2 separate regions of the Homo sapiens genome follow, and region 1 is linked to region 2. The links come from fine-mapping of genetic effects on gene expression. A gene starts in region 2. The other region holds a variant in brackets. All regions are shown on one strand. Distances are between the middles of the regions. Region 1 has its middle 27 kb from the start of GOLPH3. Region 2 holds the start of GOLPH3 (golgi phosphoprotein 3).

The links. PIP is the estimated chance that this variant, and not a neighbour inherited with it, causes the effect.
Region 1: its variant is the best candidate, but not a certain one, in a credible set for the expression of GOLPH3 in whole blood (INTERVAL, PIP 0.54).

What each region holds. Positions count from the first base shown.
Region 1 is chr5:32,198,692-32,204,214 of GRCh38, forward strand. No RefSeq gene overlaps it. Among named protein-coding and RNA genes, the nearest start is that of GOLPH3, 27 kb to the left of the region's middle. The variant CA/C (reference allele first, on the strand shown) is at 2,418.
Region 2 is chr5:32,171,844-32,176,843 of GRCh38, forward strand. It overlaps GOLPH3 (golgi phosphoprotein 3), which reads right to left and starts at 2,476. Exons shown (of 4, transcript NM_022130.4): 1 at 1,967-2,476. The coding sequence starts at 2,191. RefSeq lists a silencer at 1,760-2,369.

The sequences.
Region 1 (5,523 bases), 27 kb after region 2:
CTCAGCCTCCGGAGTAGCTGGGACTACAAGCATGCGCTACCATGCCCGGCTAATGTTTTTTGTATTTTTAGTAGACACGGGGGTTTCACCATGTTGGCCAGGCTGGTTTTGAACTCCTGAGCTCAGGCAATCCACCCGCCTCAGCCTCCCAAAATACTAGGATTACAGGCGTGAGCCACCACGCCCAGACAAAAAGTTTCTTTTCAATGGTGGTTTGTGTGTTCATTGACAGGCATCTTTCAGATTGCCTAACTTCAAAAATAAAAGAATGTTTTTGGTTTGCAATAGAAAAATAAGCCTATAAAGGCTATTAGAATTTGAACTAAGAGTTGAACCTTAAGACAGGGATGATATGAAATTACGATCTAGAAAGATGAGATTGAAGAGATCAGTTCTTTGGCTGATGGGATTTAAATGACTGAAATAGACAAGATGAAGTACCAGTGTCCAGCCCCCGTGGTCTCTCCACTGTGCTATTTCATCAGGAGTAAAGTAGGGAGAGTAACAAAGTGGCGTGATGGAAGCAGGGAGGTCCCTCCATCTTTCATTTCTGAAACTTATTACCATCCTTTACTTCCCTCCCTGTCCCCTTCCATGAAACATGCTCATAACACTCCACAATTATCACTTTTGTTTTTCTCCTACCCCAGGTAAATTATTTCCATGGAAGTAGCTCAGTTATGTGCGTGTGTGTGTGTGTGTGTGTGTTTACAGGTGGTTATTAGGACTTACAATTCTACCAGTGGTATAGAGAGTTTTAGTTGCTCGCCATTCTTTTTTTTTTTTTTTTTTTTTTTTGAGAAGGAGTCTCACTCTGTCGCCAGGCTGGAGTGCAGGGGCACGATCTCGGCTCACTGCAACCTCTGCCTCCTAGGTTCAAGCAATTCTCCTTCCTCAGCCTCCCAAGTAGCTGGGATTACAGGCACCCGCCACCAGGCCCGGCTAATTTTTGTATATTTAGTAGAGATAGGGTTTCACCGTTTTGGCCAGGCTGGTCTCGAACTCCTGACCTCAGGTGATCCGCCCGCCTTGGCCTCCCAAAGTGCTGGGATTACAGGTGTGAGCCACCGCGCCCAGCCGTTGCTCTCCATTCTTGCCGACAACTGGTATTGCTGGCTAAACATGTTTTACATATTTGTGTAAATATATAAAATATGTGGAGTGTTATGAGCATGTTTCATGGAAACATGAAGGCACTGTCTCATTGTGGTTTTAATTTTCATTTCCTTGATGATTAATAATGTTGAGCACATTTTCTTTGCTTATAAATATGCATACATTTTTAACCCAGCAATTACATTTCTGGGACTTTACCCAGAAGAAATACACACACACACACACACACACACACACACACACACACACAGAGAAACTGGGAATATCCAACAATTGTATTTTGGTGAAATATATTATTTTTGGTGCATTCATACTGGGAAGTATTACAGTTGCCTAATGATGACCATCACCATTAATATCTCAAGGTGGTTAACTCTAAGTGATAGAACAACAAGTGATTTTTAATATGTTCTTAGCTTTTATTTTCTGAATTTTTCATAGTGATTATATATTGCTTTTATATTCAGAAGAAATGGCAAGGGATACTTCTACTTTATTTTGGAACAAATGAAAAATACAATCTTAACCTGACAGAATACCAACAATTCAATCATGAGCAATGTTTTTTGGGGGTCAATGAGTTCCTCATTTAAAATGCAAGAGGTGTGCCCATGTCTTTCTAAGTCCTATTCTATCTTTAAAAAAAATTGGGACTCCTTGGAAGAATGGCTGGATACGGGGCTGGGGCAGGAAAAGCACAAGGTTAGCCAGGAACACAGGAACATTCTGATATGCCAGAAAGTAAGAAAGTGAGAAGGAAGGAAGGAAGAAGCAAGGAAGGGAGGGAGGGAGGGAGGGGAGGGGAGGGGAGTGGAGTTGGGAGGGGGGAAGGAGGGAAGGGGAGGGGAGGGGAGGAGAAGGAAGGGGAAGGGAAGGAAAATATCGGGACATGTCAAAAGGACAAGAGCTAGTTTGAAGGAGAAGGAGAGCCCGCTGGCCAAGTCTGGGATAATTTTGAGCTAAAAATAAATCAGGACAGTAAAGGATTACAACTTATTGAATAAAACATTAATCATCAGGCCAGGCGCGGTGACTCACACCTGTAATCCCAGCACTTTGGGAGGCCGAGGCGGGTGGATCACGAGGTCAGGAGTTCAAGACTAACCTGACCAGCACCGTGAAATCCCATCTCTGCTAAAAAAAATACAAAAAAATTAGCCGGGCGTGGTGACACATGCCTGTAATCCCAGCTACTTCGGAGGCTGAGGCAGAAGAATCGCTTGAACCCAGGAGGCAGAGGTTGCACTGAGCCGAGAACGCGCCACTGCACTCCAGCCTGGCAACAGAGCGAGACTCCGTCT[CA/C]AAAAAAAAAAAAAAAAATTAATCATCAATTCAGGCAGCTGATAAGTAGGTAAATAAATAGATGGAGGTAGTAAGGGAGGGCTTTCCTTATAGTGAGATGTACATTAGATTGATACATGTGGAGGGAGGGATGGAGTTGAAAAATCACTGTTTTGCTATCATCAAAGCAAAAAATTGGGCAAGAAATAGCATTGATTGCTAAATCTAGGGAGATAAAGTCTGATGAAAGACAGGATATTTAGTCAGTCCTAACGTGGCTCTCCACAGATTACTTATTAGTTGCAAAAGAAAAATAGTAACTTATCAGTGAAGAAACTGGACAATACTGGGATCAGGTGACTAAAATTAACCCAGGGACAGATTGACACACTGTGCCTCCAGGTACCCTGAAAAGAATATAACATCACTTTTTTCATAGTTTGGCAGGGGACCAAAAACCTGAATTAAGTCACGAGGAAACACCAGGCAAGCCCAACTGAAGAACATTCTATAAAACAACCGATTTGTGTTCTTTAAATATATCAATGTCATGAAAGAGAAAGAAATTCTGAAGAACCATTCCAGATTAAAGAAGATTAGAGAAACATGACCCCTTCAGGCATATATGTGATCCTTGGTTGAAACTTGGACTGGGGGGATGCTGTAAAGAACTTTATTGGTATAATTGACAAAATTGGAATATGGATTATAGAGTAGGTGAAAGTACGTATCAAGGTTAAATTTTCTGATTTGATAATTGTATTTGGATTATGTAAGAAACTATATTTGTTCTTAGGAACTACACATTGAAGTATTAAGAGTATAATAAAGGCATGATCTTTATAACCTCAAATGGTTTGGAAAAAATAAATACAGAGGGAGGGAAGAAGAGAGAATAATTAAACAAATGTGGCAAAATGTAAAAAAGTTGGTTAATCTGGACTGGGCGCGGTGGCTCATGCCTGTAATCCCAGCACTTTAGGAGGTCAATGCAGGTAGATCACGAGGTCAGGAGATTGAGACCATCCTGGCTAACATGGTGAAACCCCGTCTCTACTAAAAATACAAAAACAAAGTTAGCCAGGCGTGGTGGCGAGCACCTGTAGTCCCAGCTATTCGGGAGGCTGAGGTGAGAGAGTGGTGTGAACCCTTGAGGCAGAGCTTGCAGTGAGCGGAGATTGTGCCACTGCACTCCAGCCTGGGCGACAGAGCGAGACTCCATCTCAAAAAAAAAAAAAAAAAAAATTTGGTTAATCTGAATCATGGCTATATGAGAGTTCTCTATTATTTTTGCAACTTTTCTTTACGTTTGGAATTATTCAAAATCATGCCCGGCCTAAAATTTAATTTTTATTTGCTCCCAACCATTTGATTTTGCCCTCCAAAGAGCAGCTACACTTATGACTAAGACTTTTTGTTTTATTTCATGAACACCAATGTTAGTTCAAGAGAAATCATTCCAGTAGATGAGATCAGTTGTTGGGTGGAAATGTGTGTTTAGAAATACTGATGATACTTTAGGGAAATATCCACCCAGCATTGCACCAAGTCCACACATGGTCCAAATAGAACTAGGGAAGAAATCCTAATCTGAATTTTTTAACCTCTTATATAATGAACATTTCATGGTATAATTTATGGTTTTCCAACCACATTTCAGCTTGTATGACTAAGTAAAGCCTGCCAGTTTATTATCCAGAATACAAAGTTAGGTGTGCAAAAACATAATCTTGTGTGTCTATAATTAGACTTTATTTATTTATTTTTCTTTTTTTGAGATAGAGTCTGGCTCTGTCACCCAGGCTGGAGTGCAATGGCAAGATCTCGGCTTTGCAGCCTCCGCCTCCTGGGTTCAAGCAATTCTCCCACCTCAGCCTCCAGAGCAGTTGAGACTACAGGCACACTACACCATGCTCAGCTAATTTTTGTATTTTTAGTAGAGATGGGGTTTCACCATGTTGGCCAGGTTGGTCTCGAACTCCCAACCTCAAGTGATCCACCCGCCTCGGCCTCCTAAAGTGCTGGGATTATAGGCATGAGCCACCGCACCCAGCCTTTAATTTCTATCTAAAGCCTTCACTCTGCTTTTGTATGAAAACTTAATTTTAGTCAATTTGGGTGAAACTGTCAATTCAGGATGTTTTCAGTCATTTCCGGGTTTTCCCACTTCTTTCTAGCGTCCCATATAGGCTTTAAGGGGAGATCCTCTTAAACCATACTAAGACGTGGCATGAGAAAGGAGCTTTGTAGTGAATTCCTATAATTTTACTTTGCATTCATTTTGAACACAAGTGGACTTCCCCATACCAGAGGCAAGGTTTAGTCACCCTTGACACAGTTTCCCATTTTCTTTTTTTTTTTTGAGACAGAGGCTCGTTCTGTCACCCAGGCTGGAGTGCAGTGGCCTGATCTCAGGTCACTACAAGCTCTGCCTCCCGGGTTCATGCCATTCTCCTGCCTCAGCCTCCCAAGTAGCTGGTACTACAGGCGCCCACCACCATGCCCGGCTAACTTTTTTTGTATTTTTTAGTAGAGACAGGGTTTCACCGTGTTAGCCAGGATGGCCTCGATCTCCTGACCTCGTGATCTGCCCGCCTCGGCTTCCCAAAGTGCTGGGATTACAGGCGTGAGCCACTGCGCCCGGCCAGTTTCCCATTTTCTGCCTCTGCCCAGTTCCTCAATGCAATGGATCCAGATGTCTGCCTTATGCAACCACTACCTGGTGACCACTCCCTCCCAGGGACAACAGGATACAACCCACTTCATTGGTCCCACTGATCCCCGCACTGCACTTTGTACATATGCTGCAGTCCCATTGTGACTCCGGAGATCTGCCACCTGCTTGCTGTTAACCTGCCAGGTAGAACTCCCTGCAGGAAACTCACCTGAGGAACATCCTGGAGCCCAAACCCACAGGTTTCTCTGTCTGTCTATTGCTCCCCACTTGTTGATGGAGCGCACATGTCCCAAGATAGCACCCTCCTTCCATTAGCCCTGTGTGTGAGGCAGTCACCCGCTTCCCTCTGGGATCTGTAAGTCATAAACTACTTCTGTTATTTCATATGTTTCATTGAGATGTCGCTTTTACATCTCACCTAACTGCCACGCAGAACCCAGCTCCTTTCC
Region 2 (5,000 bases):
AGGCTGAGGCAGGAGAATCGCTTGAACCCGGGAGGGGGAGGTTGCAGTGAGCCCAGATGGCGCCACTGCACTCCAGGCCTGGGCGACAGAGCGAGATTCCGTCTAAAAAAAGAAAAAAAAAAAGACAAATGTTTATAATCAAGATTTCCAATTTTGAAACCTAAAGTTGAATATTTTCTAAAAATTACATTACTAGGACGCTATACCCCTAGTTTACTTTTTCATCCAAAGAACAAGGAACTGCACATACAGCCTGCTTTATCATCACAACTCAATAATTAAACAGGTACAGCAGCCCTTTCACAGCCAGAGGAACATCAACTTTTTTCAAGGTTACTGTTATTAAAACCTGAGAAATGGGAAACCAAGATATGGCAAATGCCCCAGACGTATCTATCAAGCTAACCGTTAGTTCATTAGATTTCTAAATAAGAAAGGTCCATAAACGGTCCATATAAAACTCGCCTATATCTAGTAAGTTTCAGTGACCAAGAAAGATTACGTTGTTTTGTAAGACTTTTTTTTTTTTTTTGCCCACCTTCCTGAATTTGGAAAACTTTCTTAAAATCAGGCCTGGGCGCGGTGGCTCAAGCTTGTAATTTCAGCACTTTGGGAGGCCGAGGCAGGCGGATCACTAGGTCAAGAGATCGAGACCATCCTGGCCAACATGGTGAAACCCCGTCTCTACTAAAGGTATGAAAATTAGCTGGGCATGGCGGCGCACGTCTGTAGTCCCGGCTACTCGGGAGGCTGAGGCAGGAAAATCGCTTGAACCCGGGAGGCGGAGTTTGCAGTGAGTGGAGATCGCGCCACTGCACTCCAGCCTGGGCGACAAACTGAGGCTCCGTCTCAAAAACAAAACAAAACAAAAACACAAAATTAGCCGGGCATGGTGGCGCATGCCTGCCTCAGGAGGCTGAGGCAGGAGAATCGCTTGAACCCGGGAGGCGGAGATTTCGGTAAGCCGAGATCGCGGCATTGCACTCCAGCCTGGGCAACAAGAGCGAAACTCCGTCTCCACATAAATAAATAATCATTTTTGTAGGCAAATATAACAAATACAGCAAAACGTCATAGAATCTAGAAAGAGTATATATGCATATGTATCTATCACTTTTTCAACTTTTCTGTGTGTGAAAATTTTGGACACTGAAGTGAAAATAAACGCTTTCAAAGTCAGAATACAAAGAATTATCTATTGCAACTTCAACCCACCTGAAGCTTTGAGGCCTCTGATCAACTCACAAACCTACATTTCAAGCACTCGATGAAAAAGCCCTTTCTTAAGACGGCAAGACTTTGAGATTCATCAACTGATAAAATATAAAAGCGATACTAAAAATAATCTCTCACCTAATGTAAGTTCACCTAGAAAGTCATTTACCAGGAGGTTTCATGAGAAACTTAACTTAACTTTACTCAGTAAAAGAGCTTTTCCCTCTATTACCACTTCGCCTACGTTTTTCGTAATTCCCAACAGTAAGCTTTAACTGAAGAAGAAGAAAAAAAAAACATCCCCAGCAAGCAGATCCGGGCACCCCTCCCAGGTCCTAAAGCCTGCAAAAACCCAAAGAGTTCGTGGCGCTGGTGGCTCCAGCTGTTAGTTTCCCGGGCAGTCTCCGGGTTGGATTTGCACCCTGGGGTCTACACGGGTTAAAAACGCGGAAAAAAGGCGACGAAGAAATACAAACTGCCAGGGTGTCGAAATGAAAGGAGCGACTGTGAAAGGGGTAAGGAAAAATCCAAGCCATCTCTACGGGGAGGATCCAGAAAGCACCAGCCGCGCCAGGGGGTCAACCAACTCCGACACCGCTCGGCGTCAGCTGGGCGCCACCAGGCGCGGACTTCGGAGCGAGGGCAGGTGCGCGGGCCGGAAGCCTCGGGCGCTCACCTGGCACCTACCTGGAGCTCACCTGGCGCCCGGGCCCCGCGCCGCCGCCCCCCGCCCAGCCCGCCGCGCCCGCACCTCGCGGTCCTTGAGGCCCAGCAGGAGCACTTCCTCCATCAGGGTCAGCCGCGTTTCCTTGGAGTCGCCCTTGTCGTCGTCGTCCTGCTCGTCGCGGCGGCTCTGCGCGTCGTCCTCGCTGCTGCCGGCGCCGCCGCCCGCCGCCCGCTCCTTGTCGGCGGCGTTGCGGGAGGCCTCGGTGCGCCGCTGCACCAGGCCGGAGCTGCGCTGGGTCAGCGAGGTCATGGCTCCCGCCGAGGCGCCGAGCCGGGCCGAGAGGGTCGCAGGACCGACCGGGTCGCCCTCCTCCTCCCCGCGCGGCCTCCGATCCGGGTTTCCGTGTTAAATCCGGACGCCGGGGCGACGTCCGTCGGCAGCAGGGCCGGGGGCAGTCATGAGGAAACAGGTCAGGGCGAAGCGGGCTGGCCGGGCGTCGGCGGGGCAGGAGAGGAGCGCCTTCCTGCCTGTGGCCGCAGTCCCCGAAACACCCCGAGCTCCAAGGCGGAGGCGGCGGCGGCGCCTTTCCAATATGGCGGCCCCGGCTGACGTCACCGGAGGATGTGGCAGAGTCGGCGCGGGAGAGCTGGGCCGGGAGGCGCCGGAAGCGGCGGCCGGGGATCCGCTGCCACTGCAGCCTACACCCTTCCCGGCCCTCGGTGCTTGTCTTTTCTTTGGCGTTCCTGCGCCCCCTGACCCGCGGTCCTGCAGTCCTGCTCCCGTGACGTGCCCTCCCTCCTTCCGTTCCCCGTTTCCCCTTCACTACCCAGGGCTGGAGCCTGAACCTGGCGGGGCCCCCCGTGAATGGAAGAGCCTGGGCCACGCGAAGGTGGACCCCACTCAGCCTCCAGCCGTGCCCTCCACGCCCCAGACACCGCCGTCTTCGGAGGCGACTCCGCGGTCGTGTGGACGGGGTCCCATTTGGACTCCGGGGTCTGCAGGATCGGCAGGAAGGACTTTGCTCTCTGCTGCTGGGCGGGGAGGGGTACGCTATCTGCCGGGACTCCCTAACCCTTTAGAAGGAGCAAGTGCGTCCAAATGGTTTGAAAGTGGACCTTTATTGTTTTCCAGGAGTAAGAAGATAGAACAGTTGACCAGTTTTGTTTGTAAAACTTCTTTCCTTGCCTCGGACTTGTGCTATAAAGTGACCAGGGCGTAGTGAGTACAGTTAGTACCGCACACGTTAGCACGCTCGACCTTAACGATCTTTTTATAGAGACAATAAACCTGCAGCGTTTCATGCCACGTCTTTGTACGCATCGGATGTCTCTCCGTGTAGTTACTAGGTGAAATCCTCTTGGCGTGCGCAAATTAGGTTAAAAAAATAGCTGTCAAACCTGAGACAGGAGTTGGAGGAGTAGAGGGTGGCGCTTGTTAAGTGAAACATTTAACCAGGAATGGTATTGTGTGCCATCCTGTATTAAACAATGTATGGACAGAGTGGAACAACAGCAAAGCAAAAAATAAAAATTTTTTAAAAAAAGTGATCATGGGCTGTGGCTAAAGAGTGCTTTAGATGGATTCTTCTCTTCCACAAATCCATTATCCAGAACTGCTGCTGCCTACCATCCCATGCCCTGGAAAGTGACAGTGCTAAATGAAGGGAAGAGAGGGTCCAGGGGGCACACCAAGTAGACCTTCCCTTTTTCCCACCTGTCTTGGTGAAGGTCGATTTCACCTCAACCAATTTCTCCCATTCACACCCTCTTTTTTTTTTTTTTTTTTTTTTTTTTGAGACGGAGTCTTGCTCTGTTGCCCAGGCTGGGGTGCAGTGGCACAATCTCGGCTCACTGCAAGCTCTGCCTCCCGGGTTCACGCCATTCTCCTGCCTCAGCCTCCTGAGTAGCTGGACTACAGGCGCCCGCCACCACGCCTGGCTAATTTTTTGTATTTTTAGTGGAGACGGGGTTTCACCGTGTTAGCCAGGATGGTCTCGATCACCTGACCTCGTGATCCGCCGGCCTTGGCCTCCCAAAGTGCTGGGATTACAGGCGTGAGCCACCGCGCCAGCCCACACCCTCTTTGGACCTTTTTTCTTCATCTTTTCTGATTTTACCAAATGTTGTAGCTTGAAATATTTCTTTGTAAAATAAATGTAATTAATTTATTATGTGAAAAAAGTTAATCAGGAGTAGTGGCCCACATCTGTAGTCCCAGGTCTTCGGGAGGCTGAGGCAGGAGAACCGCTTGAGCCCAGAATTTGAGGCTGCCATGAGGGTGATCGTGCCACTGCACACCAGCCTGAGAGACAGAGCAAGACCCTGTCTCAAAAAAAAAAAAAAAAAATTGGCTGGGCGCGTTGGCTCACGCCTGTAATCCTAGCACTTTGGAAGGCCAAGGCGGACGGATCAGGAGGTCAGGAGATCGAGACCATCCTGGCTAACACGGTGAAACCCCGTCTCTACTAAAAATACAAAAAATTAGCCGGGCGTGGTGGCGGGCCCCTGTAGTCCCAGCTACTCGGGAGGCTGAGGCAGGAGAATGGCGTGAACCCCGGAGGCGGAGCTTGCAGTGAGCAGAGATTGCGCCACTGCACTCCAGCCTGGGTGACAGAGCGAGACTCCGTCTCAAAAAAAAAAAAAAATTACTTGACTAATATAGTCAAGTATGTAGTTCAAAGAGTACAAAGATATGTGTAGTGAAAATCTCCCTCCCAGCTCTGCCCCTGTTCACCCAGTTGTTCTCCTTTCTCTCCTGAAGGTTTTAATGCCAACAAATCCTCTGATACTCCTCCCCTCAAAATGTGAAGCCTAATTTCCCTCCCCCTGAGTGTGGGCCAGACTTAGTGACTCTCTTGAAATGAATAGAATGTGGCCAACATGACTGTGTGGCACTTCTCAGGTCATGAAAGTCTATGCAGCTTTTTTCCTCCCCAGCTGCCCTCCACCCCCAGCCATCATGATGGGTGGGGGTGGAGGGCAGCTGGGGAAGAAGTGAGGGAGGAAGGAAGGAGATATTTTAAAAACAGGAAGAGGAAGAAAGGATATTTTAGGAAGGAAAAAAGAAGGAATTTTAGGAATGAGAATATTCCTAATTACAACAATGAGTGTTACTTTTT